2 separate regions of the Homo sapiens genome follow, and region 1 is linked to region 2. A link means that fine-mapping ties the variant in region 2 to the plasma level of a protein whose gene starts in the linked region. Region 2 holds a variant in brackets. A gene starts in the other region. All regions are shown on their reverse strands.

Region 1 (15,866 bases), not on the chromosome of region 2:
GCCCAGCTAATTTTTTGTAATTTTAGTAGAGACAGGGTTTCACCATGTTAGCCAGGATGGTCTCGATCTCCTGACCTCGTGATCCTCCCGCCTCGGCCTCCCAAAGTGCTGGGATTACTGGTGTGAGCCACCGTGCCCAGCCGAAACGTCCTTTCAAAACTCCACACTACTCTCCACTTCCACGTTCCCCATAGTACCCAACACATCCACCCAGACCCCTCCAGTACTTCTAGTTTTCTTCTACTCCTTCAACCTCCCACCCTAAAACACACAACCTTTCCTTATCCCCCATCCGTAGTTAATCCTGCTGTTTAGGATACTTGCTCACCCTCAGTTGCAGAACACCACACCCCTGTCCACATTACTCTTAAAGAGCCCACCCAGTTCCTATCACAGAAGGAGTATCCCATCCCCCAAGCAGCTCTCATGAGCCTAAAGCCTATCATTTCTTGCCTTCTTGCCAGTCACCTACTCCGCCCAACAAACTCCCCTTTTAACACACCAATTCTACCTGTCAAAAAGCTAGCTGGAACTTATCGCTTAGTCCAGGACCTCAGGCTCATTAACCAAGCTGTACTTCCAGTATGTTCAGTAGTTCCTAATCCATACACTTTCCACAATTCCCTCCAATACCACCCATTTTTCTGTTCTAAACCTAAAGGATGCTTTTCTTCACAATTCCTTTGCACGCTAATTCCCAAAACCTCTTTGCCTTTATGTGGGAAAACCCCGACACCCACATTTCACCTCTGCTCACCTGGTGCGTACTACCTCGAGGTTTCAGAGACAGCCCCCACCTTCTTAGACAGGCCCTTGCTTGCGACCTTTGTACCTTATCCCTAAAATTGTCCACTCTCCTTCGATGTGTTAATGATCTGCTCCTGCGTAGCACCTCTCAAAGAGACTGCAACGCCCATACTATCTCTCTCTTTTAAACCTGGCAGAACGGGGGCATTAAGTCTCCCCTAAAAAAGCACAAATATGCACCCCCTCAGTCATCTATCTAGGCCTAGCTCTTACCCTGTGTACCCAAGGGCTCACAACCGACCGCATTTCCCTCCTCCTGTCCTTCCCACCTCTGCAAACTAAGCAAGAAATTCTCTCTTTTCTAGGGACAAGCAGGATATTTTAGACTCTGGGTTCCCTCCTTGGCTGTACTTGCCAAACTGTTATACCAAGCTGCTAAAGGCCCTCTCCATGAGCCTTTAAAACCTGCACAGCCTATTACTCAACCTTTCCATCTACTCCAGAAGGCTCTCATCTCAGCCCCCGTCCTCACTCTCCCAGACCTCACCAAACCTTTCTCCCTCTATACCGACAAACAGTGTGAAGTTACACTGGGTGTTCTAACCCAGTCTAAGGGACCCACCCTCCAGGTTGTTGCCTACCTCTCTAAACAGCTTGAAGCCACAGTTCTCAGATGGCCTGCCTGCCTCCGAGCATTGATGGCAGCTGCTGCCCTCACCCTTAAAAACCTAAAACTATCTCTCCATGCCAACCTAACAGTTTATTCAACCCATAACATCAAAGACATGCTAGCTCACCACAGTGTACTAAGTCTCATCTCTGCCCCACAGCTCCTCCAACTGTATGCTCTATTCATAGAAAGCCCCCAAATCACCATGCTAACCAGCTCCCGTCTAAACCCGGCCACGCTCTTACCTGAAGCTACAACCACCCAAGACCCTACACACTTCTGTTTGAACACTATTCAAACCTTTCTTATACCTTTTCCAAATCTAACATACCAATATCTTCCAGATGCCTCCTTTACTTGGTTTGTAGATGGCAGCTCCTTCCTACATCAAGGACGCCGGCATGCTGGCTATGCTATAGTGTCACCCCCACACACACTATTGAAGCCAATCCACTCCTCCTAGGCATCACCTCCCAAAAAGCTGAACTCATCGCCCTCACTCGAGCTCTCACTCTAGCAACCAGACAACAGATCAACATATATTCAAATTCTCATTATGCTTTCCACATAGTATACTCACACTTGTCCATCTGGAAAGAACGGGGTTTCCTAACTGCCAAAAATATCGCTGTCATAAATGACTCCCCCATCAGCAAGCTCCTTCAAGCTGCCCGGCTCGCACAGAAAGTTGCCATCATTCATTGCAGGGGCCACCAAACCCCAGACAATCCTATATCGGTGGGAAATGCTTTAGCAGATCAGGTAGCCAAACAAGTAGCCCTACAACCTGTGCAAGGCCGGTTTCTGTCCCTGTCCTTGTTCTCTCCTCTTTACTCCTCAGAAGAAAAGGAGGACTTCTGAGCCCAAAACCTTCAAAAGCAAGGAGCATCATATGTCAAGGAAGGGCGCTTCGTTCTTCCTCACTCTCAAAGTCTTCCTCACCTCCAAATCCTCCACAACTCTTTCCATGTTGGTTACAAACCTCTCTTGCAACTTCTCTGTCCCATTCTCACTTGTCCTCACCTTTCCAGCCGTGTTTGAGAAATTACCCAAACCTGTTCTATCTGCCACTTAGTGTCACCTCAGGGCTCCCTCTGGCCACCGCCTTTTCCTACTCACCAAGACTGGGGCCAGATACCTAGGCAAGATTGGCAAGTAGACTTCATTCACATCCCGCCGGATAAACGGCTCCTCTGTCTTCTAGTCTTTGTCTGTACTTTCTCCGGGTAGATAGAAGCATTCCCAACAACTTCAGAAGGTGCAAATATCCTCACACTAACTCTCATCATGCATGCAATTCCCTGTTTCGGACTCCCAACATCCATCCAGTCTGATAACGGGCCCGCCTTCATCAGCCAAATTACCCAAGGCATCTCTACATCCTTAGAAATAAAATGGGCCCTCCACACACCCTACAGGCCTCAATCTTCAGGCAAAGTTGAAAAAATTAACTCTGTCCTTAAAGCCCAACTCACCAAGCTGGCTCTAGAAACCTACCAGTCGTGAACAAAAAAAATCTCCCTTTTGCCCTCATGAGACTCTGCACGACACCAAAAGCACCCTCTTTTTATAGTCTCTTTGAAATCATGTGTGGCCAAACTTTTGTCTTAGGGCCTCTACCCTTACCAGACTTTGAGCCATCAGGAATTACCTCCCCTCCTTAATCCAGACACGGTGTTTCATTCGTGAAGCAGCAAATGAGGCCATGCCTCTCCTGTAGACACCTCCTCGTCCTCTCAACATAACTGCATTGCAAGCACAGACATGTTTATCTGCCAACCTGACCCCCACCCAAAAGCTGCAACCAAAGTGGACAGGCCCCTACACTGTGATACTCAGCACGCCAACTGTAGTGAGAGTCCAAAGACTCCCCCACTGGGTCCATCGTACCAGCGTCAAGCTCACCCCCAAGAATACTCCTTCCTCCAAAACATTAACAGTGGGCAACACCCTCGGAGTCACTGTATACAATAACCTAAACAAAGAAAAATGATCCTTGAAGATAGGAGGAAGCCAAAGATGGCAAGGGGATGAATGGCCTCCACAACAGGTCATGGAGTATAACTGTCCTGCCACTTAGGCTGAGGATGGTTCCTGAGGTTATCGCACTCCTATATATATGCTAAATAGAATAATTAGACTACAGGCTGTTCTAGAGATAATCACTAACCAAACCACTTCAGCCCTGGAAATGCTCATGCAACAACAAAACCAAATGCACGTGGCAATTTATCAAAACAGGCTAGCTAGCACTAGACTACTTATTAGCAGAAGAGGGTGGAGTCTGTGGTAAGTTTAATATCTCTAATTGCTGTCTTAACATAGACAATAATGGAAAAGCGGTTCTAGAAACCTCTTCAAACATAAGAAAAGTAGCTCATGTACCAGTCCAAAGCTGGAAGGGATGGGACCCAACAAACCTTCTAGGAGGGTGGTTCTTTAGGATGATTTAAAATGCTGGTAAGGACAGTAATCTTCATCATTGGACTCCTCCTGTTTCTTCCTGTGTTATCCCACTGATAATAAAAGCCATTAAAACTCTTGTTGAAACTACAGTTAACTGCCAGACAATCCAGATGATGCTCCTGCTACAATGACACTATAGATACTAACCCGTCTCTTAAGAATACACCAAAAATTAAATTTTTCTTTTTCCAAGGTGCCCATACCACCCCTATGTCACGCCTGAAGTAGTTATCCCTTTTCCCTTTTCTATAACCAAATAGACAGGAATGTAAGATTCTCTCCAGGGCCTGAAAGCTTAAGGAAATGAATAACTCCTCCCTTCTCAGGCCCAGTCCCAAGGGTGCAAGGCTATTTGCACCAGCAGCGTGCACCAGCAAGATAGCAGAAGCAGGAAGAGAGCCAGCTGGAAGACACGTACCCCTGAAGATCCAGAAAAAGGCCATCTGGGTACAACGTAGCAGTTATGTCAGACTAGGACACTTCTTGTTTACAGGAGACTATAAAACCTTTGCCCCTTCCTCACTTGGGGCTGAAGCCATTTTAGGCCTCAGCCCGCCTGCACCCAGGTGCTCATTAAAACAGCATGTTGCTACACACCATCTCCTGTTGTCTGTTGGCACGCTCTCGGGGTTTGAACCGATACAAAAACCTTACAACGAGGACTCTAAAGAACAATTCCCATTTCCTTAAAAACACGTACACACACACACAGAGGATTGTGATGCTAGCGTGTGTAAAGGACAAATTAACTTGCAGGGTAAGGACTGGGTGCTTAGTATCTTAAATGTATTTTTTTTTCAAGTTCTTCTTGTGGGGCCTCTGGCCATGGCCATGATCAATGGGTGGTTCTATACTGAAATTAGGCCTCAGAGAGCTAGACTGGTTGAATGTGGAAAGAAATAAAGAGAAGGAAACTAGCAGGTTTCATTGAGCTAAGAAAATGAATGCGAAGCAAAACTTCTTGCCTTTGAATCTAGCTTCAATGTAGAGTAACTGTTTGATCTTGGGGAAGTTGCTTAGCTCTGCTCTTACCTTCAGTTTCTTCATATGTGATATATGGTTCCTCCTAGTACCCATATTACAAAGTTGTCATGTGGATTAAGTGGGTGCCTATTTGTTAAGCATTTAGAATAGTGCCTGGCATAGAGAGCACATGATGAAAATTTGTGTTAAATAAACTGAAGCTTTCCTGTGAAGCAGAAGAGGCTAATTTATAAGGAAGTTTCTTTACATCTGCACAATACAGCGGACCATGGAAAATTCTTGGGGCATATGGTACTCCTTCAGCTCCTTTCCTTTCCAGTCTGAAGTTTGCAGACAGGCTGTTATTCACATGCCTGCCAAAAGTTTTAAACAAAAGAGAGATTCTGTCTCCATAATAAGTCTAAAATCTGTTAAAAGGTGGAAAACAGGGAACAGCAGATAGAAGATGGCCAATAGCGCTAAAAATAAGCCATAGTCTTGAAACTCTCTAAGCTTTATTGAGGCGTATCAAGAAATTGCCCCCATTTGGGGATATACTAACACTAGTTATCCAGTTTACCCCTTTCCACCTATGTGAAGACTAACAGAAGAAATAGATAGGAAAGGCCTAAAATCAGCTTCTTAGAACTTTGTAAAACTAGTTCAGGGGACAGGACCTTCAGAATCCTGAGGACAAGGAGATAAATCTTAAAGGATTGGGAAATATGGCTTCCTTGACAAAGGCATCATTTTGGAACCAAAGTGGCTGCCAGTAAATGTCCTCAATTTTACTACCTGGCCTGTGGAATTTGGTCAGTAACCTATGTGAGCAATAACGGTTAGTTATCTAAACGGGCATACAGCTATTGGGGCAATAAACATTTTATGAGAGTTGCGTCAACTGTTATTTGTTTTAAAATGCTTTCATATCGTGCTAGCCACAATGTGTTTTATTATATATTTGAAAGTATTAGATCTTTTGTACCTGAAAAGTCATTGTCTAGTTGAAGTCTTCTTGATGTAAAGAAAAACTCTCATTTAAAAAATTACCACAAATAATTTTTTTGTATTAATTTTTAAAAATTGGCCCAACAGAGTGGCTCCTGCCCATAATACCAGCACTTTGGGAGGCTGAGGCAGGCAGATGGCTTGAGCCCAGGAGTTTGAGACCAGCTTGGGCAACATAGTAAAACACTGTCTCTACTGAAAATACAAAAATTAGCCTGGCGTGGAGGTGTGCGCCTATACTCCCAGCTACTCAGGAGGCTGAGGCGGGAGAACAGTTGAGCCCAGGGGCTCAAGACTGATGTGAGCCTTGTTTGAGCCATTGCACTCTAGCCTAGGTGACAAAGAGAGACCCTGTCTCAAAAATAATGATAATACTACTACTACTACTAATAATTGCTCGTTTGATTTTGGCAAGATAAACTTATGGTAACAAGCATACTAGATTTCTCTTTTCTTCATCCCTTTCTAACTCTGAATAATATGATTGAAATTCTTACAGAAAAAAAAACTCAAATCTTTCTCTGGTTGTAAGCTTTAAAGAAAATTATTTTTAGAAAATGCTGAAATAAATTAGAGTAGTTTGACAAACACTTTTGAACCTGTTAGACTAAACAGTATTAACCTCTGTCATCTATGTTTAAAATGATTATTATAAAGGGACAAAATTATATATTCTCCAGGAAAACAGTAATGTAAACGGTAAAAAGATCCCTGTTCAAAGTTTCCCTTCTTGTTAAAGAATAAATCATAAGTGTTAGAAATAATAGTTTATTTTAAAGACGAACTTCCTTCAAGCCCCCTCGCTTTACGCTAATAACTCTTTGTTAAGCCCTATCTTATATAGCTGTTGAACAGTCACAGGCACGTAGTACATTCCATGTCCTTGTACCTTAACCAAGATATTTGTGTTGGACGTGCTCATAGGTATGTCCTAGTTCACAGCCTGTGCCCCTTCCTTATTTGGAAATATTATTATTTTTGTACCTATTTTAAAAAGTTTTAAATTATTAGCCAATCAGGTTTTAATTTAGATTGTGAGGTCTGGCTCCAGCCAATGGAGACAGGACACAGCAATAGGGACCTCATGCGTAAGGAATAAATATTCTGGTGTCTCTTCATTCTGTGTATGCCCTTGCCATTGTTCCATCTGTGAGGGGCATCCTTTCTGCAGAAATTAAAAATTGCCTCGCTGAGAGAACTTTTTGTCTGAATGCTGACTTTTCCTTGCAGAACTGAGAAACAAACATTTTGCATTTCTAATGAGTATGAAAATTTTTTGTATAGTGTTTTATTACGGATTTATTTTACTTTAAACTACATGTGAATAGATAAAAAAATATAAATAATTAGCTTTTTTAAAGCACATATAAATATTATTAGTTTGTAAATTTTTGCAACTTTTAAAATTCATTTTGTTTATATATGCTTTTGAAATGAGCTCATGTTTATATAAATATATTTAGTTTATTTAATTTAACTCCTGTTAGTATTTCAAAATATATTATTTTGTCATTTATCCCAATTGATATAGCCATCCTTATTTCTGTGAACATTTTGGTTAGTTTTTCAACTGAATTTTAAATTCCAGATTTGCTCTTGTTCCCTGATTCTGAATGGGTATTTAATGGGAATTTCAGTAAGCTTTTAATTTCACATCACTATCTGTAACTTCACAACAACAGACAATTGACTTCAAACCAACAACTTCATATTCCATTACTTTGAGCTTACTTAGGCATCAGCTCCCTGCAGTTCCCACCTGCTTGGACTTTGAGAACATCTGTATCATGCTAGCTACTTATGCTGAAACCTTGCTGGAAACGCTGGCTTAAATTTACGTAACTACTAAACCTTGTGATGTGGTGTGGCTCTGTGTCCCCACCCAAATCTCATCTCAAATTGTAATCCTCATAATCCCCATGTGTGGATTGAGGAACCTAGTGGGAGGTGATTGGATCACGGGAGTAGTTTCCCCCATGCTGTTCTCTTGATAGTGAGTGCATTCTCACAAGATCTGATGGTTTTATAAAGGGCTCTTCCCTCTCCACTCTCTCTTGCTCACCTGCCACCATGTAAGACATGCTTTGCTTCCCCTTCGTCTCCATGATTGTAAGTTTCCTGAGGCCTCCCCATCCTCAGGAAAGTCTGTGAGTCAATTAAACTATGAGTCAATTAAACCTCTTTCCTTTTTAAGTTACCCAGTCTCTGGTATTATCTTTATAGCAGTATGAAAAGGACTAATACACCTTGCCTTCTGAAGTAGGTCTTGAGAGGTTCCTGAACCTGAAAGGGAATGGAGAAATGACTTAAAGCCACCAGCTAATTGGGCTTAATCATTTGGACTCAGTTGACTCTTCCCCTACCCCTACCCATGCCTAAACCAAAGAAAGGATCATCCCACATTTACCTAGCACAAAGAAATCTACTCTTCTGCTCTTTCTAGGACTGCTAAAGGCCATGGGAACTGGACACCTGGATGCTGCAGAGGAAGAGCAAAGCTCAACATCAACTTGGACAGTTTGCCAACCTGTTTGTGGTAAGTTGATGTCATTTGTGACCACTCCTAATGTGTGCCAGGAATAAGCTATTCCTGATGCCAGAATCTCTTACTGTCAGTGCCCTCTGTAGGCCTTCTGATCCTTACTCCTTGCTCCACCCATTGTTTATATCATGTAGTTCTCTCTCAGACCCTGATATAAAGCTCCTACTCTGTCTGACCTGACAAGCCACCTCAAGTGGACAAGGCACTTACCAACAGGTAAAGGGGCATTACAGGAGAAGAGCATGTCTAACGTGGGATTTTCTCTTTTCATTTTGAGGTAGATACAGGGTGATTTTCTGAATAAAAGATCCCAGTAGTAATGAAACTTAAGCAAGACCAAAGCTGATTTCGGGTAATTTGGCCTCTGTTATCCCCAAACCAAAAGAGAAATATCTGGGAGTGTAGCTATCTCAGTGGACCTTTCGGCTCACAGGAATTCAGAGAGGAGAGGATGTTAGAAAGATAACAGGTGCTCTGCTCTCTTCTTCAAACCCTCTTCCCTGTGTTCTCCTACAGAGATTGCTGATTTGCTCCTTAAGCAAGAGATTCACTGCCGCTAAGCATGGCTCAGACCAACTCGTTCTTCATGCTGATCTCCTCCCTGATGTTCCTGTCTCTGAGCCAAGGTGAGATTTTCCCCCACACTTCCCACAACCCCAACTCTGAATTCTTCCCTCCATCCTCATGTATAAGGTTCACTTGAAAAAAAGCAGAGTCAACATCAGGGTTTTTTTATGTTGTTCAGTGATCATTATGGCTGATTTTATCCCATTCAAAAACACCCTCACCTCATTCATGGGTTTGAGACAGAATTTAATAGGACCACTTATAGGTGACCATTGTGGTTGAGTTTATCTGATTGAATCTATATGCGATGGCAGTTTGGGGGATGTTTTTATGTAGTCATTGCTAGGATGGAGAGCTAAGGCAAACGTGTGCAGGGAAACCGAGAGAAACTTGAGAAAGGAGGAAGCCTGGGTCTTTAAAGGCAGAAGCCTCAGCCTCAGAATTAAAGGAAAACGAGGACTCATTTATTTAGCCTATTCATTGTGAGCTCTTGTCTTGAGCAGAGGAAACTAGAGAGAAAAGAGATAGGATGCAGGAGGGCAGAAGTGAGCAATCGCCCCAGTATTCACTGTATCCATATGTTCTTATAAAGGACACCAAGAAGCCCCTAATTCACCTTCCAGCCTTTTCCTTGCCCTGCGATTCTTTCTTAATTATCTCCTTTTTTTTTTCCCCAGGCCAGGAGTCCCAGACAGAGCTGCCTAATCCCCGAATCAGCTGCCCAGAAGGCACCAATGCCTATCGCTCCTACTGCTACTACTTTAATGAAGACCCTGAGACCTGGGTTGATGCAGATGTGAGTGAGGAGAGCAGCAGGGGAAGGGAGGCTTATGAAGGTAGAGGCAGCTGCTAATTTGCAGTGTGTTCTGTGGCTGCAATGAGATAAGATTGATCCCTTCCCTATTCCACCACTGGTCCCAAACTTCCCAATCTACTTTATCCCATCATTTGACACATTCCCAGCACAGAGATGCTGGTGGTCAGTGACAGCATCATCAGGGACATTTCTGTGCTGTCCTTTTTCTGTTACATCCTCTGGAAGGTCTCAGTATATCCCTCACACCTTCCTTCTCCACTGAGTGCTCCATTTTCTTCTCCAACAGCTCTATTGCCAGAACATGAATTCAGGCAACCTGGTGTCTGTGCTCACCCAGGCGGAGGGTGCCTTCGTGGCCTCACTGATTAAGGAGAGTAGCACTGATGACAGCAATGTCTGGATTGGCCTCCATGACCCAAAAAAGGTCAGTCTGCAGCCACCTCTATCTCCTTATAAACATTTTTGAGAGGTAAGAGGGACGTTTAAGGTCTGGCACCGCAATCACCAACTTTTATCTTTTTGTTTGTTTAAATAAAAGCAACCTCTTTATAGATCCTATAATGTATGAGTTGTGAAGTTCAGTGTAGGTAGTTAGAGACATGAGCTGAAGGCTGAATTTTCTGGGCTCTGGGAATTCATGCACCCACTCATTGTGTCTACTTCTAGAAATGCATCTTTATGTACAACTTTTTCCCTATTTTGCTATTGTCTGTCTTGGAAGAGGTCCCTCTGTAGACTATATAGAAAATGAGTAGTGGAGGAGAATCTACTGCTGGCATTTGTTATACATTTTATACAAGTGTATAAAACTGTACAGTATATTATTTAGTTTAACACTATAAACTAAATAATATATCAACGACTACTCTACAGCCAATGTTATGCTGGATATGAGAGTTCTGAGATTCAGGAAAAAAATCAGAAACCACTCTCTTTAATGGGCTTTTATGGGTCTCTGTATCAAATTCTGAACACTTATTATTTGCTGGAAGAGGAGGAGGAATTCGGACATTCTAGAGAAGGAGAAGCTTAGAGCAAAAGCAGAGGAAATGATATGATATTCATGGTGACAACAATGTTTATTCTTTCTGCTATAACTTGGCCTGTTTCTGAGTGTGCACACAGGCCTGGTTATTCTATTGATTTTTGAGTGACCATGGCCCCTGTTCTGGCCCTTCTCCATCTAGAACCGCCGCTGGCACTGGAGTAGTGGGTCCCTGGTCTCCTACAAGTCCTGGGACACTGGATCCCCGAGCAGTGCTAATGCTGGCTACTGTGCAAGCCTGACTTCATGCTCAGGTGAGAGGCAGACAATCTATCCACCTGTTGCCATTTCCTTCCCACTTATCTCTGGGGATGAACATGGGGACTGGGATAGAGGAAAGGTAAGCTCCTTATCTGGAAAATAAAGAAGTATTTCCTCTAGTTTTTTGTTCTGAGTCCTAGGTTGAGGAGGGGCTACACTCCTTCTGATCCTCTATGTCTGACACTTCTCATTGTACCATAGGATTCAAGAAATGGAAGGATGAATCTTGTGAGAAGAAGTTCTCCTTTGTTTGCAAGTTCAAAAACTAGAGGAAGCTGAAAAATGGATGTCTAGAACTGGTCCTGCAATTACTATGAAGTCAAAAATTAAACTAGACTATGTCTCCAACTCAGTTCAGACCATCTCCTCCCTAATGAGTTTGCATCGCTGATCTTCAGTACCTTCACCTGTCTCAGTCTCTAGAGCCCTGAAAAATAAAAACAAACTTATTTTTATCCAGTGTTCTGTCTTCTGCATTTGCTCTTTCTACAGCCCATGCTTGGGTGGTTGGGGTGGGAATGATTGTCACACTCCAGAGCTTGCCATGGCCCATCCACTTGTTAAAACCCCACTCACATTTTATGTATGTCAGGCTTATGAACATGTGGTGGCCTTGTTTATGACAAGATAAAAAGATTAAGATTTCATCCACAACACATGTTAGCATGAACCTAGTGTGAATTACACAAATAATTAAATTGTTGATCCAGTCTGACTGGAGTATTTAATATTCCAGAAGAATTCGCATAGTTGGGGTCTGAGGAGAACACATCTGTTCTTGGTTATGCAATTTGAAGTCATGACTGAAATGATAACTTAAGGAGAATTGTCAGGTCTGCGGTCCTGAGTGCATTAGTGGTACATTTTTGGAGGCCAGCCTGCAAAGTTTGTTAAATGCTACTCCTTGGATGAATGAATAAGTGAATGATCAATTATGTAAATTAAATATACAGGCATACTTAATCATCTCTTTAAATATCCTAACTCTCAATAAAGTTAAATTCTGAAATATTACTCTTAGGACTTTCACAAATTAATTGTGCAGGGACACAGTTCAGCCCATAACATCAATCATATCAATAATAGAGTTAAATGTGATTTGATAACAAAGGAAACAAATTGTCATCCTGGATTAAAGTAACAACAATGAAAACAAGATTCAACTGTATGCTATGTATGAGAGACATGAGTTAAATTAAGACACAAATAGCTTGAAAATAAAAGGAAGGAAATAGACATATCTTGCAAACAGAAACCATAAGAACACTGGTTTCTGTACTGTTACCCAGTGTAATGCCTATATGAGATTGCTGAATTTCTACCCTGTCTGAACTCTGCTTATCTTTAAGAAACAGAATGCCTGTGGTAAAAAGTTTCCTTTATAACTAGTCCAGCTGATACTGGTTAGAATCAAGATCACCATCAAAGGACCTCAGAAAGACATCTGGTTCATTATAATCTCATTTCCATGCTAAATGACACTCCTACCAGCACAATGACAGCTGACAATCACCATGACAATGGCCAGAAGAAGCAATAAAGGTACAAAAAGGAAGCACACTCTGGTTCCTAGGAAGTTCACAACCTATTTCCAGAAAAGACATGAATATTCCTCCCTTTGTTTTTAATGCCCAGTCCTTTCATTGGAGAAACCCTATATTTTAACCACTTTACCCCTCACTAGCAGAGAAGCCAATTTGTGAGTCATGTTCCTGCTTCTCAATTCCATGGCCATCAAATAAATCCTGCAGTGCTTGACACTCACTTTCTGTTTCATGTATTGGCTTTGTGACACCAAATAGGGAAAGACTCCATCTTTTGGGGGACTGGTTTTGTCTGCAATGATACTAATATCAGACATATTTGACTTTAAAGCAAAAATGTTACTTGAGAAGAAAAGGAGTATTTTATAATAATAAAGTAGTTAATTCTTCAGGAAGATGTCTCAAAATACCTGAAACAGGTGGAACCCACTGCAGTGTGACAAAGCCGCTATAACCAGACTGCCCCTCCGGATTCCTCCTCTCTGGGGAGGACATCTCTGAAAGAAAGGCAGCAGCCTCAGTCAGGGGCTTATAGATAAACTCCCATCTCCCTGGGACAGAGCACCTGGGGGAAGGGGCAGCTGTGGGCCAAGCTTCAGCAGACTTAACCTTTCCTGTCTGCTGGCTCTGAAGAGAGCAGCGGGTCTCCTCGCACAGCACGCAAGCTCTGCTAAAGGACAGATTGCCTTCTCAAGTGGGTCCCTTACTCCAGTGCCTGATGACTGGGAGATACCTCCCAGCAGGAGTTGACAGACACCTCATACAGGAGAGCTCCAGCTGGCATCTGGCCAGTGCCTCTCTGGGACAAAGATTCCAGAGGAAGAAGCAGGCAGCAATATTTGCTGTTCTGCAGCCTCCGCTGGTGAGACACAGGCAAACAGGGTCCGGAGTGGACCTCCAACAAACTCCAGCAGACCTGCAGAAGAGGGGCCTGACTCTTAGAAGGAAAACTAACAAACAGAAAGCAATAGCATCAATATCAACTAAAAGGACACCCAGGAAAATCACCATCCGAAGGTCACCAACATTAAAGACCAAAGATAGATAAATCCATGAAGATGAGAAAAAAACAAGCGCAAAAAGGATGAAAATTCCAAAAACCAGAAAGCCTCTTCTCCTCCAAAGGATCACAACTCCTCATCAGCAAGGAAACAAAACTGGATAGACAATGAGTTTGATGAATTGACAGAAGTAGGCTTCAGAAGGTGGGTAATAACAAACCCCTCTGAGCTGAAAGAGCATGTTCTAACCCAATGCAAGAAAGCTAAGAATCTTGATAAAAGGTTACAGGAACTGGTAACTAGAATAACTAGTTAGAGAAGAACATAAATGATCTGATGGAGCTGAAAAACACAGCACGAGAACTTCATGAAGCGTACGCAAGTATCAATAGCTGAATCAATCAAGCAGAAGAAAGGATATCAGAGATTGAAGATCAACTTAATGAAGTCAAGAGTGAAGACAAGATTAGAGAACAAAGAATGAAAAGGAAAGAACAAAGCCCCCAAGAAATATGGGACTATGTGAAAAGACCAAACCTACGTTTGATTGGTGTACCTGAAAGTGACAGGGAGAATGGATCCAAATTGGAAAACATACTTCAGGATATTATCCAGGAGAACTGCCCCAGCCTAGTAAGAGAGGCCAACATTCAAATTCAGGAAATACAGAGAAGACGGCAAAGATACTCCTTGAGAAAAGCAGCCCCAAGACACATAATTGTTGGATTCATCAAGGTTGAAATGAAGGAAAAAATGTTAAGGGCAGCCAGAAAGAAAGGCCAGGTTACCCACAAAGGGACACCAATCAGACTAACAGAGGATCTCTCTGCAGAAATCCTGTGAGCCAGAAGACAGTGGGGGCCAGTATGCAACTTTCTTAAAGAAAAGAATTTTCAACCCAGAATTTCATATCCAGTCAAACTAAGCTTCATAAGCAAAGGAGAAATAAAGTCCTTTACAGACAAGCAAATGCTGAGGGATTTTGTCACCACCAGGCCTGCCTTACAAGAGCTCCTGAAGGAAGCACTAAATATGAAAAGGAAAACTGGTACCAGCCACTGCGAAAACATACCAAAATGTAAAGACAATCGACACTATGAAGAAACCACATCAACTAATGGGCAAAATAACCAGCTAGCATCATAATGACTGGATCAAATTCACACATAACAATGTTAGCTTTAAATGAAAATGGGCTAAATGCCCCAATTAAAAGACACAGACTGGCAAACTGGATAGAGTCAAGACCCATCTGTGTGCTGTATTCAGGAGACCCATCTCATGTGCAAAGACACACACAGGCTCAAAATGAAGGGATGGAGGAATACTTACCAAGCAAATGGAAAGCCCAAAATAAAAAAAAAAAAGCAGGGGTTGCAATTCTCATCTCTGATAAAACAGACTCTAAACCAACAAAGATAAAAAAAGACAAAGAAGAGCATTACATAATGGTAAAGGGATCAATGCGCCAAGAAGAGCTAACTATCCTAAATATATATGCACCCAATACAGGAGCACCCAGATTCATTGAGCAAGTTCTTAGAGACCTACAAAGAGACTTAGACTCCCACACAATAATAGTGGGAGATTTCAACACCCCACTGTCAATATCAGACAGATCAACGAGACAGAATATTAACAAGGATATTCAGGACTTGAACTCAGCTCTGGACCAAGTGGACCTAATAGACATCTAGAGAACTCTCCACCCCAAATCAACAGAATATACATTCTTCTCAGCACCACATCACACTTATTCTAAAATTGACCACATAATTGGAAGGAAAACACTGCTCAGCAAATGCAAAAGAATGGAAATCATAAGAGCCTCTCAGACCACAGTGCAATCAAATTAGAACTCATGATTAAGAAACTCACTCAAAACTGCACAACTGCATGGAAACTGAACAACCTGATCCTGAATGACTACTGGGTATATAATGAAACTAAGGCAGAAATAAATAAGTTCTTTGAAACCAATGAGAAGAAAGACACAATGTATCAGAATCTCTGGGACACAGCTAAAGCAATGTTTACAGAAAAATTTACAGCACTAAATGCCAACAGGAGAAAGCGAGAAAGATCTAAAATTGACACCCTAGCATCACAATTAAAAGCACTAGAGAAGCACGAGCAAACAAATTCAAAAGCTAGCAGAAGACAAGAAATAACTGAGATCAGAGCAGAACTGAAGGAGATAGAGACACAAAAATCCCTTCAAAAAATCAATGAATC
Region 2 (15,866 bases):
CACCTGCACCCAGGTAATTAAAAAGCTTTATTGCTCACACAAAGCTTGTTTGGTGGTCTTTTCACATGGACGCACATGACAGTATGACCCTTCTTACTCTTTCAAAGATGCTCTCAAGTGCTTTCCATTGAACCCTGTACATTAACATGATCATTTGCATGGATGTCACATTTGCCTGTGGTGCCTACGATGGAGGTAAATTCTGAATCCACTCCAAATAATGAACATGGAGTGCAGATTTATTTCTTGGTCAGAAGAAGCAGTTCTAATTTTAGATAAAAATTCACTATCACAGGCCAGCCTGGTGGAGCTGTGGGAAGCTCCAGCCATGGATGGCACAGCCCTACTTCTATGTCTTAGACCCGCAGCTCATGGCCATATGGTTCTGGGCAAGTGGCTTACCTTCTGCAAGCCTCCGTTGCCTCATAATTAAGTGGGAATAAAGTTGTCCTGAGAATTTTAAAAGTTATATAGCACACTTAGTTCAGTGTCTGATATCTGTATGAGCTGTTAATAATACTATATCAACTCTTAGGCTCAGGACCAGGGGCACTGGGGGTTGCAAAGATGAACAAAACATTGGCCCTGCCCCTGAGGCACTCAGTGTGATAGGCAATATGGTTATTTAAAGAAATAGAGGAGGCCAGGAGCAGTGGTTCATGCCCGTAATCCCAGCATTTGGGAGGCCAAGGCAGGAGGATCACTTGAGCTCAGGAGTTCGAGATCAGCCTGGGACACATAGCAAGATCCCACCTCTACAAAAAAAAATTTGTTAATTAGCTGGGTGTGGTGGTGCATGCCTATAGTCCCAGCTACTCTGGAGGCTGAGGCTGGAAGATTGCTTAAGCCCAGGAGTTCAAGTCTGCTGTGAGCTATGATGCACCCCTGCCTGGGCATCCAGCCTGGGCAACAGAATGAGAACCTGTCATTAAAAAATTAAAATAAAATAAAAATAAATAAATGAGTGGAGGAATAAGAATGTGGCGTGTGCTATTCATGATCAGCCAAGTTAGAAGAAACAGGGCTGACAGAGTTGTCTGGCCGCTCCAAACGGGTGTGAATGGGTGTGAACGAGTGTGAATGGGTGTGAATGGGTGTGAAGGGCCCTCAGCGGGGCCGCTCAGGGAGTCTCCAGGCTGCTCACTTGGCATAGGAACAATGGTCACCTTCAGTGGACTGACTTCCACTGACCAAACTCACAGCAAGCCAGAACCCAACACAATTAAGGCCAGGCCTTCACTGGGGGAGTATGACAAGGACCAATCACAGCATCTGCCACTTGTAGGGTGACTAACCGTCCTCATTTGCCTGGGAGTGAGGGGTTTCCTGGAACGTGGGACTTTCTATGCTAAAATCTGCAAAGTCCCAGGCAAACCACAGAAATCGGTGGTAGGGGCTGTTGAAAACTTCAGTATAATCATAGTTGCAGCCACCTTCAAGCCTGTAGAGAAGGGACACACCATATTGGCTTCACTTTCACCCAAAATTGGATGCAGGGGGCCATCTTAGATGGTGATAGCTCAACAAATGGTAGCTGCAGAGGCCAGCTGACTATGGAGCTAATGAAGCTGAAGCTTTTGGGCCCCCTCTTCCCTGCCTACTGCAATGTGCAGGCCTCCTCCAAGGCCTAGCAATGTGTTTGCACAGCCATACGTTTTTGCAAAGTTTATAAAAGTTCATAGATATTGCATTCTTTGACTTAATGAGGCCCCTGCCCATCTCAACACCTGCCTCTCACCCCCAACCCTAACTGTATAAGCTTCAGGCCCTGCAAAATCTGGAGCTGCTCCAGGAGCTGCTGTTGTTATTGCTGATGGGAGTGGCGGTCTGCCAGAAGCCCTCTCTGCTGGACACAGCTGGAGATACTCTTTCTGCTCAGCTTCCTTCTTCCTATTTGGAAGTAGCTGCAGCCATATCATAGCACCAAAGGTTTTTTATCTTCCTTTATTCCAATTATGTCCTGATTATCCCAAAATCATAATTTCTTCATCCCCAGAATTCAAGAAGCACAGGACATACCGCTCTAAGAAAGCTTGTGCACTGGGAAATGGAATGGGAAGCCCCAGGCTTACCTGCTTGAAGGTGCCGCAGCCTGAGTAGGGAATTGTGAATATCACCAGGTTCGGCGTTATCTGGGGCCGACACTCGTAGTATCCATTCCAGGTGGAAATGACAAGGTCACTGGCAGAAAAGCCCAAGGATTGGAGATAGCTCCTGCTCACACTGGCTTGCATGTGATTTGGCAGACAGAGCAGGTCTGATAGACAAGGACAGATAAGGCACTCAGTCACTGCCCCAGACTCCACAAGTCCTACGGGGCCAGAGGCTGTTTCCACTTAAAAAGTGCACAGACCAGGGTGGCTGACAGGGAGGGTCAGCACTTAGGATGTGGGCATAGACCTCACTGCAATCCCCCAAGGACCCGAGGGTCAAGTCAGCCCCATCCTTATGAAAGCCCAAGGAGAGCACGTGGACTCAGGATTTCTCTGATGGAGAATTGGAGGCAGGATTTTTAAATAAGTGGTATGTTTGGCCAAGTTACCATTTATCTATAAAGTAAAGTAACTGTATGATCAAATTGTGGGAATGTCATGAAACAAGGTCTTTTAGCCATGAAGCAAGTCAGTCTTTAATCCTGACTGCATAAGAGACCCTGGATGTCACCTTGCCTGGCCCTTGGCCATTCTACATATCAGTCCATACAGCAACTCAAATCATGGCCATACAGGCTCTGCTGGAAGTGTCTGAGTGACCTTATCTCAGCCACTTCCAGCCACCCAGCTCAGTCCATCTTCAGATAGAAACCAAATGTGTTAGGTCTCAGGCCATGGCCACAGTGTCCCACACTCTGAGAAGGTCACAAGGTTTCAAGCCAAGAGGTCACCTCTGCCTTTGGCACTGACTCATCACTCTCCACGAAGAGCATCATCTGGGACCCTCTACTTAGTCTCTGCTGACCACAGTAAGACCAATCATCACCCATCAGCCAGTTCTAGCCCTGACTTTATTTCTGGGCAGCCAGAGTCCCAAGTCCCACTGCTCCTGGTCCCTTTCAGCTGAAAATCAAGCCCTGGTGACCTGAAAGGGTTCCTTCATTTCTTATTTCACAACAACAGGACAGTTGAGCCACAGATGCTCTCAGGATGTCCCCAGTCCCAACAGAGCATTTCCACAAGGGGACTTACTGGTGCTGTCATTGGAGGGACTGGAGTAGTACTCAGCCCGGAACCCTCTCCTTGTGATGCTGTGGTCACTGATGAAGCGAATGGACATGAAGTTGGAGGAAGAAGTGAAGGAGCCTCTGGCCCCATCACAAACTCGAGCAATGAGAGGGGAACTGCGGTAGGGGCCATCGAAAACTTCAATATAATCATAGTTGCAGCCACCTTCAAGCCTGCAGAGAGAGGACACACCATTTGGCTTCATTTCCTCCCAGAATTTGACGCAGGGGGTCAGATCTCAGGGTGGGGTCACACCTCTGTGCCAGAAACTCTGACAAAGTTCATCGATGAAAGTCATAGGTCTCCTTGGCTGGGCGCAGTAGCTCACACTTATAATCCCAGCACTTTGGGAGACCAAGGCAGGTGGATCATCTGAGGTCATAAGTTCGAGACCAGCCTGGCCAACGTGGTGAAACCCTGTCTCTACTAAAAATCCAAAAATTAGCCGGGCGTGGTGGCACAAGCCTGTAGGGTGAGGGAGGCTACTCAGGAGGCTGAGGCAGGAAAATCACTTGAACCAAGGAGGCAGAGGTTGCAGTGAGCCGAGATCGTGCCACTGCACTCCAGTTTGGGCGACAGAGTGAGGCCCTGTCTCAAAAAATAAAAAGAAAAATAAAAATTGAAACAAAAGAAAGTCATAGGTATCCTTAAATCAAGAGAGTCTCATCTTCCCTCAACCTCCATGCCTGGGTCTTAGTCCTGCCCTTTGCAATCACACATATGAAATCTACAGCCCCTCACCTGTCAGCCCTTTACATCAGGAAAGGAAGGGCTCGCATCCTGATTTAGACCATTTTTCTTCCATCGAAAAGTCCCTAGTGCCCCCACAGAATAAAATCAATATGCATGAATTCATAGTGAGAGAAATAAATAATTGAATAAATAAATACTGGGCAAGTCAAATAATCTCTCTAAAGCTTTTCCTATTTACAAAGGCAAAGTAATCTGATCCATGCACACTGAAGAGGGCTATGGTGAAGCTCAAATAAAACAACATACAGAAAAGGGCTTTGTAAAATGTCACAAATGGTGATGGTCATTGCTATCAAGATGCTGGTTAAAGAACCAGTCATGGTCAACCTTTTCCCATAGGACTGCATCAGCTTTAAGTGCAATCTTTGTATTGTAATGACAAAGAGAATAAAATGATGTATCTTTTGCAAAATCCCAAATGAATCACTAAAGCAGAGACTCCAAAGCCCACTGCAAACAGAAATCAACAGGGAAAACTATTTTGTTCAACAGTGGCTGTTAGAGAAGAAATTAGTGTAGCCCCTTGTTCAGGACACTAGCAAACACTGGTGCCTCTTCACAGTTAGCTGGGCCACCCGCCTCCTTGGATAAATCATATATTAATGTACTTTTGACATCAGGCATGGTGGCTCACACCTGTAATCCCAGCACTTTGGGAGGCCGAGGTGGGAGGATAACCTGAGGCCAGGAGTTGAAGACCAGCCTGACCAATATGGTGAAACCCCGTCTCTAATAAAAATACAAAAATTAGCCAGGCATTGTGGCGTGTGCCTGTAAGCCCAGCTACTTGAAAGGCTGAGGCAGGAGAATCGCTTGAACCCGGGAGGCAGAGGTTGCAGTGAGCCGAGACCGTGCCACTACATTCCAGCCTGGGTGACAGAGCGAGACTCCATGTCCGGAAAAAAAAAGAAAGAAAGAAAAAGAGAGAAAGAGAGAGAGAGAGAGAGAGAGAGAGAGAGAGAGAGAGAGAGAGAGAGAGAAGAGAGAGAGAGAGAGAGAAAGAAAGAAAAGAAAGAAAGAAAGAAAGAAAGAAAGAAAGAAAGAAAGAAAGAAAGAAAGAAAGAAAGAAAAGTGCTTTTAGTAATGTCCTCTCTGCTTAAAACGATGATTTCTACTTATGATTGGATGCAGAGCAGATACCCTACCCTCTGGAGCAGCAATTCCTCCATCTCTGCCCGACCCCTGGGGAACTCACATGAAGAAAGGAATGGGTGGAGAAAAAGGGTTCCACAAAACAGATACAATTGTTCTTTTTGTTTTGTTTTGTTTTCCTGAGACAGGGTCTCGTTTTGTTCCACAAGCTGGAGTGCACTGGCGCTATCATAGTTCACCACAACCTTCAACTCCCAGGGCTCTAGCGATTCTCCCACCTCAGCCTCCTTAGTAGCTGGGACTACAGGTGCAGGCCACCACACCCAGCTAATTTTTGTACTTTTTTGTAGAGATGGGGGGTCTCCCTATATTGCTCAGGCTGGTCTTGAACTCCTGCATTCAGGTGATCCTCCTGCCTCGGCCTCCCAAAGTGTTGGGATTACAACCCTGAGGCAGCATACCTGGCCAGTGTGGTTGTTAATAGGATTATTAGTGCTATTATTGCCCCTAAGTCTATCATTACTACTTAACAACCATCTTTTCCACTGGACAACATTTTGTAAATATTTTCACATCTCTCTCCCTCTCTCTCCTCTCTGTTTCTCGTGACCTTCCCAGTAAACAGTGAGGTGAGGAAAGCAGGTATTTTATTCCCCTCTTTTGACTGAGGCTCAGGAAAGTTGAGTGACTTCCTGTGGTCACACAGCAAATTGGTGAAAGACCTAGGACTTGAAACCAGAGCTTTTGTCCACTCCAAGGCTCTCGTGCCCCCTCCCCAACTCTCCACGGGATGCCTCTGGGCTAGGTCAAAAATGTCTCTCAGCAAACTTCTCTCCTGGCTTTCTAAGCACCATTTATTCCCTCTTGAAAGGTCTGTGGGGCCCCAAGGCATTCTTCTGGGCGCACACTTAAGCACCATTTATTCCCTCTTGAAAGGTCTGTGGGGCCCCAAGGCATTCTTCTGGGCGCACACTTACTGGACATCTCTGAAGATCACAGTCACACGGTAGTTGTTTTGCACCTCAATGTCCCACACACACTTGGCATTGTTTGGATAGTTCCCGGGATAGAATGGGCTGGAAAAGTCCCCTGATGGTTGGGATAGGAAGCCTCCGCAGGAATAATCTGCTGTCAGGACAAAAAGTGGGAATGTCGGTGACCCCCAGAGCACACTGCACAGTCTACCTGCGGACTACTTTAAATTTAAATTACTTTAAAATTTTATAAAATAATTCCCAAGACAGAAACCAAGTAAGAGCAAGAGGTGGCCTAGATCTGGACCGTCCACTGAGGGCTGGCAGGGCACTCTTGCAGGGAGACCACTTTGGGGGAAGCCATCTCCTCCCCAGCCCCATTGTCACTGAGGAAATGGGAAGGGGAATTTCCAGGCCACTCTGCCACAGACTTGTCAGGGAGCTCAGAACTTACTGTTTGGACGGGTGATGTTGAGAAAAGGAGCTGTTGACAAAAAGAAAAGATCAGGATCAGTTTTCTGGCATCCCTGACACAGCTGTCGACTGCTCATGAGCTGTGCAGATGCTGTGCCAAGCCTGAGTCCACAGGGAGGAGCTGGACACAGGCCTTGCCCTTGGGGAGCTCACTTGCCTTTGGGGAGGTCTGGAGGAGAGCGAATCCCAGCACACTGGGAAAAGGATGAGATTGACCAAAGCCTGGGGAAGGAGAGGAGCCTGGAAGTCTGGCCCCTGCCCCAGATGGAGTGGGGAAAAAAGGGCAGTAATTAGGGGGCAGGCAAAGAGGTAGAAACGGGGTGTCCCAGGCAGAGGAACAGCAGGTGCAACTGCACCTGGGTGGAATAGATTTGGGAACCTCCGTGTAGATGGAGCAGGCAGAGGATGGGGAGAGGGCACCAAGCATAGGGAGCAGATCATGGGGAGCCCTGGCAGTCATGCTGTGCTGAGGAGCGGGGTCATCACCAGAAGACCCTGAGGAATCTCTTGAAGGGGCTGCACAGTGGAGAATGGATGGGAGGGCACAGGCCTGAAGCTGCTGCTATGGGAGGCCAGGAGGGGATGACAAAGCAAGCAGGGGGCGGGGCAGTGGGGGGTGTTGGAGAGGTGCCAGGGCCATGCTGGGAACACTCAGAGCAGCTCAGGGGCAGGCAGGGAGGAGCTCTGCGATGCAGTGGGCCCCATTTGGCCAACACTGGTCAGGGTCTGGTGTCTGTGAGGACAGTCAAATCTGACAGGTGGCGGGCCTCACCTCGGGACTGACTGGAGATCCTAATCTTAGGTGGGTCAGGCCACTGAAGCACAGAGAGGGGCACACTATCCTGGTGGCCGGCAGGGGAGGGGACAGGGGCTGTAGAGGATGGTACCACAGATGAACTCCTTGGAGAGTGAGCAACATGCCCTGCACAGTCTAGGCAGCAGTAATGGAGAGACCTGGAGACCAGGGAAGTGGAATGGAAATCGGAGGGACTTACCAGGTGTCGATAGATGGTTTCCTGAAAAAGGAATAGAAAAAAAGCATAGGTCACAGACATGTGGCTTGGAGGAGGGGCCGGAATGAGACAGAGATACACTTACATGGCCCATAACCTGACCCCCCTCGGCGAGGGTCCCCAGGTCCACCCAGCAATTGCTATTGAGAAGCCTTCCCAGCTTCCCCAGATGCTCCCTAAGTCCCGTCATACTTGTGGTCATCAGGATTACAGCTGAGGTCATAACACCCATCACTCTCTCCTTGACCATGATTGTTCTAAAACCATCCCAATTGTCACCAGTAGCAAGTACTATCATAGCCACCCCGACTCAACAGTCAAGGAAACTGAAGCATAAAGAAGTAAAATCATTGCTGGAGGTCCTTTAGTCAGATGAGTGTTCAGCATAATGGCCCTGGGTCCAGAAACTGGCCAAAGATAAAGCAGCCCCCTGCATGCTCTTCTGGAGTGCGCAGGCCACGAGGACACAATGACCAGCTCCTGCCTGGGCCACAGACACCATCAGCCACTGGCCTTAAGCTCTTGCTTTATAGCAAGTTACAGGTGAAATGGGCCTTCCATGGCATTGGGCCATACCTGAGCAGATGACACCAGCATCTTCACGATGATTACAGTTGTGGGAGAACCAGCCTCGGTTCCGGCACTGCCAGAG[A/G]GTGGATTCCGTCCCTGAGCACTCTACATCGTCCAGGGTGATGGGGCCAGAGCCAGAGCCAAAATATGCATTTCCAAGGGCTGAAACTGCACGTCCACACCCTAGCTGTCTGCAGACCACCTCAGCTTCCTGAATGGTCCAGGAGTCATCACAAACTGTCCCCCAGGTGCCACCATGGTAAATTTCTACACGCCCGGCACATAGACCATAGGATGAATTTAAATTGACCAACCTCAAGGTGGCATCTGAAAGACACATTAACTGAGAGATCATGGCCATGTCCCACAACAAATGTCCCACAACAAACCTCAAAGGCCAAGCATCCCACAGGCCTTTTCCCACCTCTAAAGTCGCCAAATAGAAATGTGGAAAAGCTGGGGTGGAGGTACTGGACCGCTCCATGCAGAGCTGAAAGGGGCTCTAGACATCGCCAAGCTCAGATCCCCTCACCTCCAGACGGAGAGGGGTGGCTCTGAAGGAGAGTCACCAGGTCCCCTGGAGAGTTGGTGGCAGACCCAAGGCCAGGTGGAACCCCCAGTCTGCACCCTTTGCTGCCTTCCCAAGGGCCTGCCCACACAGTCAGTGCCAAGAGAAAGAGAATGGGCCGTGCATCGCTGAGGCCCTTCTTTGATTTCCTTGGGGAACCATGGTGCCCCCAAAGAGGCAGCTGGGTAAATCCACCAAGCCTCATAGGCATGGTCTAGTGTGCACTTACCGCTTGGGAAGGAGTTATACCAAGCCAAAAAGCCAGTGTTTTGGAAACTGATGTCACTTCGAAAGTGAATGGTCATTCGGTTGTAAGAAGATGTAAATATTTGCCTGGTATCATTACAGATTTTCCCCAGCAGGAGACTGCTATTCAATGATCCATCAAAGATTTCAACATAATCAAAACTGCAGTTATGGTGTGCCTCCAATCTGTATGGAGAAAATGTATTCAAGTCAACATTGAAATTCCTATTGCCCCTCCATTTTATAAATAGTTTGCACTTTACGAGGGATGCCATTGAATACAGGTTTTTCTTCTAGCTCTTCCTCAATTAAGTCAAAGGACATCAGTGTTCCCTGATGCTTTATGGTAGGAATCAAAGCCACCAAAAGCTTGTCCATGGCACATGAGAGTGAAAAGCATCCCAGCCCAGGACACAGTCTAAACCAGTGGGTGTGCTGCAGAGGAACTCACCCCTCACCAGATGACCAGGCATTACTTACTTCAGATTACTGAAGCCCAGGTTTATGCGATAACCAGAATTCACTTCTATTTCCCAAACACACTTAGCATTGTTGGGGTAGTATGCAGGGTAGGATGGGCTGGAGAATGTCCCACTGGCATAGAATAAGAAGCCACCACAATTTGAAGAGGGTCCTAGAGAGGAGAGAGGGGACATCTCCATTGTACCAGGTCTTCAGGTATTTTGTGACAAGGAATCATCTGTGTAAGTATCATCCAGTTTCATCTTCTGCACTTTATAACAAGACTTAACTTTCCCTGTAAACAAGTCCCCTCTCTTGGGCCTGGTTCTAGGTGGCCCAACATTAGAAGCTTTGATTCAAGTCCCTGCTTTCCCTGTTAGGCCTGGACAGCAACCCTCTGCGAGGAGGTGACCCAAGCTTCAGAGGGAGCATGTGTCACCTCTAGCAAAAATGCCAAGAAAGCAACAAAGTGACAGCTATCATTGTTCAATCAGCTACAGACAGGGACGTGGGATAGTCCTGGCTGAACACAGTGCTGACCCGTGGAGAGCACTCCATAACACAGTGTGTTCCCTAGCGTCTTCCATGAGCACAGGACTCTGCCAATTCACAAGTAGCACAACGTTGGGTTAGGAGCAGGGTTTCTGCAACAAGAAGCCTGGGTTTGCATCTTGGCTCTGCCTCTATCAGCTCCATGATCTGGAGCCAGTTACTTAACCTCTCTGCCTCAGTTTCCTCATCAGAAAAATGAGAGTGGTAATGGCATCTGCCTCATCTGTCTGATGAGGGTATTAAATAAGATATGTATATATGAACATTTATACATAAACATAAGATAGGTTTCTATGTCTATATAAACTCTTAGAGAGTGCCAGGCACATAAGCACCCAGCAATATTAGCTATTGTTATTTATCAGAAAAGGATAAATATTAAGTGGTCAAACATTTTGTTGGTTGGTTTATAGTAATAAAAACTTTTTAAAAACATGTGCACACTCAGTGATAGAAATTAAAACGTCTTTTTTTTTCTTTTTCATAACTCTTTGTTTACTTTTTCTAAGGGGATAAGTCCATGGTTTTTAGCATACTGAGAGCTCTGAAATCACCACAGTCAATTTTAGATTATTTTCATCACCCCAAAAAGAAACCCTGTACTCATTAGCAATCACTCCCCATTTCTTCTCAACACCCTCCATTCCTGGCACCCACTGATCTACTTTTCTGTCTCTATAGATTTGCCTATTGTGGACATTTCATATAAAACAAATTGTACAATATGGTAGTTTTTTTGACTGACTTCTCAATGTGTTTTCAAAGTTCATCATGTTGTAGCATAAATCAATATTAAATTCTTTTTTTTCTTTTGTTTTGTTTTGAGATGGAGTTTCGCTCTTGTCACCCAGGCTGGAGTGCAGTGGCACGATCTCAGCTTACTGCAACCTCCGCTTCCCGGGTTCAAGCGATTCTCCTGCCCCAGCTTCCCAAGTAGCTGGGATTACAGCCGCCCACCACTATGCCCAGCTAATTTTTGTATTTTTAGTAGAGACAGGGTTTCACCACGTTGTCCAGGCTGGTCTCGAAGTCCTGACCTCAGCCAATCCGCCCATCTTGGCCTCCCAAAATGCTGGGATTACAGGTATGAGCCACCGCGCCCGGCCACTATTAAATTCATTTTTATTGCCAAATAATACTCCACTGCATGGACATATCATATTTGTTTCTCGATTCACCATGATGGACATTTGCATTGCATTCACATTTGGCTACTATGAATAAAGCTGTCCTGAACATTCACATACAAGTTTCTGTATGGACATATGTTTTCATTTCTCCTGGGTATATACCTAGGAATACAACTGCTGGGTCATATGGTGACTCCAGGTCTAACCTTTCGAGGAGCCACCAAACTGCTTCTCAAAGTGGCTGTACCATTTTACATTCCCTGCAGCCGTGCATAAGGTTTCCAATTTCTCCACATCCTCATCAACACTTGCTATTATCTGGCTTTTTGACTACAGCCCACCTACTGGGTGTTTCATTTGCATGACCCTGACGGCTAATGACATTGAGCATCTTTCCAATGCCTTCTCTGCTATCTGTGAATCTTCTGTAGAGAAATATCTTTCAGGTCTTTTGCTCATTGTTCAGTTGGGTTATTTGACTTTTTATCATTGACTACAAGAGTCACTTATATATCCTAGATACAAGTCCCTTATGAGATAGAAATACGTTCTCCCATTTGATGGGAAGACAGTGTTTCTTGAAGATCATGTGGCCTGCCCTCCCTTTCTATTTCTACACTGGGAAATAATTAAGGATAAAGTCAAACTTTCAGAGACAAGGATACGAGTTACATATTTCTAATCATTAAATATAAATGGTTATAAAATATGCTATTGTATATAGTCACTTAACATTATAAAATATAATTGGAAACAATGTTTTTGCCCCACAATTAGTAACCGTTTAACTAAATGATGATATATCTATACAGTGGAAAATCATATAGTCATTAAACCTTCTTCTATACAAATAATTTCAATGTTATAAAAATGCTAATTTTAAGGTCATGAAAAAAGTATTATATACACTTAAATGAAAATGATGGGTTATACAATGGGATATAAAGCATGCCATACTGTGTGTGTGTGTGTGTTTGTGTGTGTGTATACAGTGTATGGAATGTATGCCAAAATGCCAACAGTAATTATGTATTTATTCATTAATTTATCCATTCATTCATTCACTCATTTATTCCTTCAATAAACAGTTCTTGAAAGGCAGACACAATGCTAGATAATAAGGATACATTATGAAAAAGGCAGACATGGCCCCTGCCTTCAGGAAATGCAGTTTGGCAGAAAAGATAAACATGATCTTTTGCAAATATATTTCCAATTAGCTAATTCTCAAGATTAAAATCTTTCTGCAGCCTCCCTACCTTTAGGATAAAGATGGGAGTCTTAACCCACCCACAAGGCCCTGAATGATCTGGCCTCACCCGACAGATTTCCTGCAGTCCCTCCTTGCCCGCACCCCACCCTCCTTCAAAGAGCCAAGCTCCTTCCCACCCTAGGGCCTTCAAAGCATCCCTTCTGGTTAGAAGACACTTCAGCAAATGAACCTGCTCCTCTATTAACTCCCAGCTTAAATGTCACTTCCATAAGGAACTTCCCCTAACTCCCCAATCAAGGAAGATCTCTACTAATACTTCCTCTTTGCACACTGAACTTTTCCTTGGAAACAGTTGTCACAACTGTAATTTTCTAGTTTGTTGTGTACAAAATAATATTGTGAGCTCTGAGGAAGAAGATCAGTTTGTCTCTTACATCATTCCATAATTTTACAACCATTCTTGATGGTAGTTTGACCATACACACAGCAAGATCTTAAAATACCTAACACAGTAAAAGTTAATATGCATGAAGTACATTCTATGTACCAGGCACTACAATGACATTGACTTTGGTCCAGTAAACCCATTTATATCCTAAAGGAAAAATTAGTGAGGTATGCAAAAAAATTATCTATAAAAATATTCTTCATCACAAAATCATTTACAGTAATGAAGAAATACAAACAAATATCTAGCATCTGATGATTTGTCAAATAATTCATGGCATATCTGTATAATAGAATACAATACAGGGACTTAAAATGATTGTGAGAAAAGATTTAATAACACAGAAAAGTATCCCTATTATTTTTTAAAAGCAATGAAAATCTATTGAAACATAGCCATATGGTGAAATAAAAATGACATGGAAAAGCATAATTTGTAGTAAAATTATCCATTTACTATTTGTCTCCCTTCTTCCTCCTAAAGCTTTGGAGATACCCCCCAAAATAAAAGCCTTTAAGTCTATTATTTTAAGAATACTTATCTCATTGATTCAAATGAAGAGGTGAAGGGTATAGTGGGACAGGCCAGGGCTATGTGCAGATTGAGGAAGGCTGGGGTGGGGCAGAGCATTCGCTCATGGATAGCCAAGCTTGGGGATAAGAAATGTATGACCTATGGTTCAGGTAGAAAATGTGATACCTACTTGCAGTGGTTGTAGTTGTTGGATGCCACCAATCTAGAAAAAAAAATGAAGCTGTTTAGGATTTTAGTAGATAATTTTTCCATTCCATAGTAATTTGTTTGACTGACAAAGTTAAATCCTTTTCCTTAGTACAGGACTTCTCAGAGCCTTGACCATTCCAGTTTACACTGTTCATGGCCAGTAAGGTCTAGAGTATGTAGCACCTCCCAACATATTTGGCCCAGGATATTTTCACTGTGGCACAAAAACGCTTTGCGGATGGCTCCCTCAAAGTGAAAGTATTCTTTATTTGACAAATACGTGCAGAAGTATTACTTGGCTATGTTTCTAAAATGAAGGTCCTAATTTTCCATGGGTTAATTTAGACAGTTATTTTCATCTGAAATAATGGGAGGACCAAAGCCTCCTTCCACAGCAGCATCTCTGCCAGCACTTAGCACTATCAGCAGGCAATAGCAGGAGGCCACAGGGGCCCTCCACGGTGAACCAGACATGAGAGTGATGGCAGTGGGAACTCAGCTCGTCACCCTAACAAAGATCAGAGTCCTCAGAGAGAAATTACCCCCCCAGGGGGAGTCTACCCTACTCCTCCTACTTCTGGAAACAAGAGAGGGTGGAATTCCCAAGAGAAATATTGCTGGACTGGGGTGTAGCAGACTCACCTGTCGTAGTAGAATTTATTTGGGTGGCTGCAAGGAAAAGAAGAAAACATGAGTCAGTCCCAGTGCCCAGGATGATGAGCGAGAGAAATGCTGAGTGCCTGTCCCCATCTCATCACTTAGAAATGCTCCCCAAGAGTCATCCAGGAGAGTGGAATAGTAGATATAAACCTTAACGGTTAGTCTCAAAAAAAGATGTTGGAAGAATTCATTCTTACAGCCTGAAAGTAGATTGAACCCTTGTTTGCTATAGGAACCTACATAAGAAAGAAGCTAGTGCCTACCCATAAAATTCAAAGACGCCAACAACATTTGCTGAGGTTATTGCCTTGCTGAGGTATCAGAGAAACTGGCCATCTTGAAGAGAAGCTCAGGCTGGGAAGAGGCCAGTGCAAAGAGAAGCCTTGTCATGGAGAAAACCACACACTAAAATAGAGGCCCAAGGTCTTGGAGGCCCATCTGAACAGATGACACAGCATCTTCACTGTGCTGACAGCTGTGGGAGAGCCAGCCATTGTGCGGGCAGCTCCACAGTTAGGACTCATTCCCTGAGCAGCACACATCATCCAGGACAATGGGTCCTGAGCCCTGATCAAACCAGGCATTTCCTGGGAATGCCACGGCCCAGCCACGGCCCAGCTGCCTGCAGACCACATTGGCGTCATTGGTGTCATCATACACGGTGCCCCAGGAGACTTGGTACAGGACCTCCACCTGGCCCTGACACTGGTCACCTCCATTCACCAGCCTCAGGGCCAAACCAGAATTGGATTCTAGAAAAGACAGGAAAATTAACTCTCTCCTGTATCTCCTAAAGGAAGAGGATCTGAGGTCAAGTGAAGTTCAGAATTCTTCCAGAAGGCCAAGGTTTCTGGGTCTCCAGTTAATGTTCTCCAGCAGCATAGACATTGACGGAAGCCTGTTCTTCATCATTTTAAGTTGATGTTCTTCATCAACTTAAGGGTTGTTTTCTAGAACCCTTGGGTGTGGACTGAGCTGTGCATGTTCTCTGATGGAGTTACCCCAGTGACCAGCAATTCAAGTGCTGAGCCAGGCCTTCAGATTCAGAGGTTAAAGTGCAGGAGCCATCAGCATGGATCTGCAGGGACCACTGGGCTCAAGTGCCCCTGCAGCAGGATGCAACCGAGACCAGCTCCCAGCTGCCTGGCAAGGTGCAGCCCTAGGACCTGGTTCTTGGGAGAGTCCACCTCTCCACCTCTGGCTGACTCACTCTGCTCACAGGGACCACCCCATCAGGCCCGAGGCTTATTCCTGAGTCACTTTCAAACCCACAGCTTGCCTTCAATCTGAAACAAAACCTGGACCTACTGAATACCATGAGCTACAGGGACAGTGGGCAGAAGCAACTATGAGGACACTTAGTTGTGCATACCTAGCAGTGCCTATGCCTGAGAATGGAGAAAAAATGGCAGAGTTAGGCCTCCATGAAGGAATGTCACATGCTAGACACAACACTGGGCCAGGCATCCTGATCCCTCTGTGTACCTGAACCCTGTCCTGTGAGCCTGGGCTAAGATACTGACATTAGTCTAGTTCCTCTGGCCTTCAGCTTAGTATCTATAAAATGAAGCCCCTGTTCTCCCAAGAATATATACAAAGGGCCCACCAACACATGAAAAGATGCTCAACATCATTAGTCATCAAGGAAATGCAAATCAAAACACCATGAAATACCACCTTACACCCACTAGGATGGCCATGATGAAAAAGACATCATAACAAGTGTTGGTGAGGATACGGAGGAATCAGAATTCTCAGGCATTGCTT

Direction of the effects. Positions count from the first base shown, and alleles are read on the strand shown. Strength reflects both the effect of a copy and how common the allele is.
As copies of G replace A in region 2, the plasma level of the protein whose gene starts at base 8,578 in region 1 goes up (weak association).

The links. A credible set is the group of variants that fine-mapping cannot tell apart. PIP is the posterior inclusion probability: the model's chance that the variant is causal. Protein levels are from antibody-based Olink assays in UK Biobank. Linkage for the fine-mapping came from a reference panel and not from the study's own genotypes, which makes the PIPs less certain.
Region 1: it holds the start of REG1B, and the variant in region 2 is the best candidate, but not a certain one, in a credible set for the plasma level of the REG1B protein (UK Biobank, PIP 0.64).

What each region holds. Positions count from the first base shown.
Region 1 is chr2:79,080,705-79,096,570 of GRCh38, reverse strand. REG1B (regenerating family member 1 beta) reads left to right here and starts at 8,578. Exons shown (of 6, transcript NM_006507.4): 1 at 8,578-8,612; 2 at 8,913-9,022; 3 at 9,641-9,759; 4 at 10,067-10,204; 5 at 10,968-11,079; 6 at 11,288-11,548. The coding sequence starts at 8,959. The coding sequence ends at 11,355.
Region 2 is chr10:122,623,519-122,639,384 of GRCh38, reverse strand. It overlaps DMBT1 (deleted in malignant brain tumors 1), which reads right to left. Exons shown (of 56, transcript NM_001377530.1): 45 at 14,082-14,108; 46 at 13,420-13,452; 47 at 9,392-9,545; 48 at 8,895-9,097; 49 at 8,104-8,424; 50 at 7,510-7,530; 51 at 6,495-6,524; 52 at 6,044-6,194; 53 at 3,186-3,394; 54 at 2,073-2,257. Among named protein-coding and RNA genes, the nearest start is that of SPADH, 41 kb to the left of the region's middle. RefSeq lists an enhancer at 1-43. The variant A/G (reference allele first, on the strand shown) is at 8,180.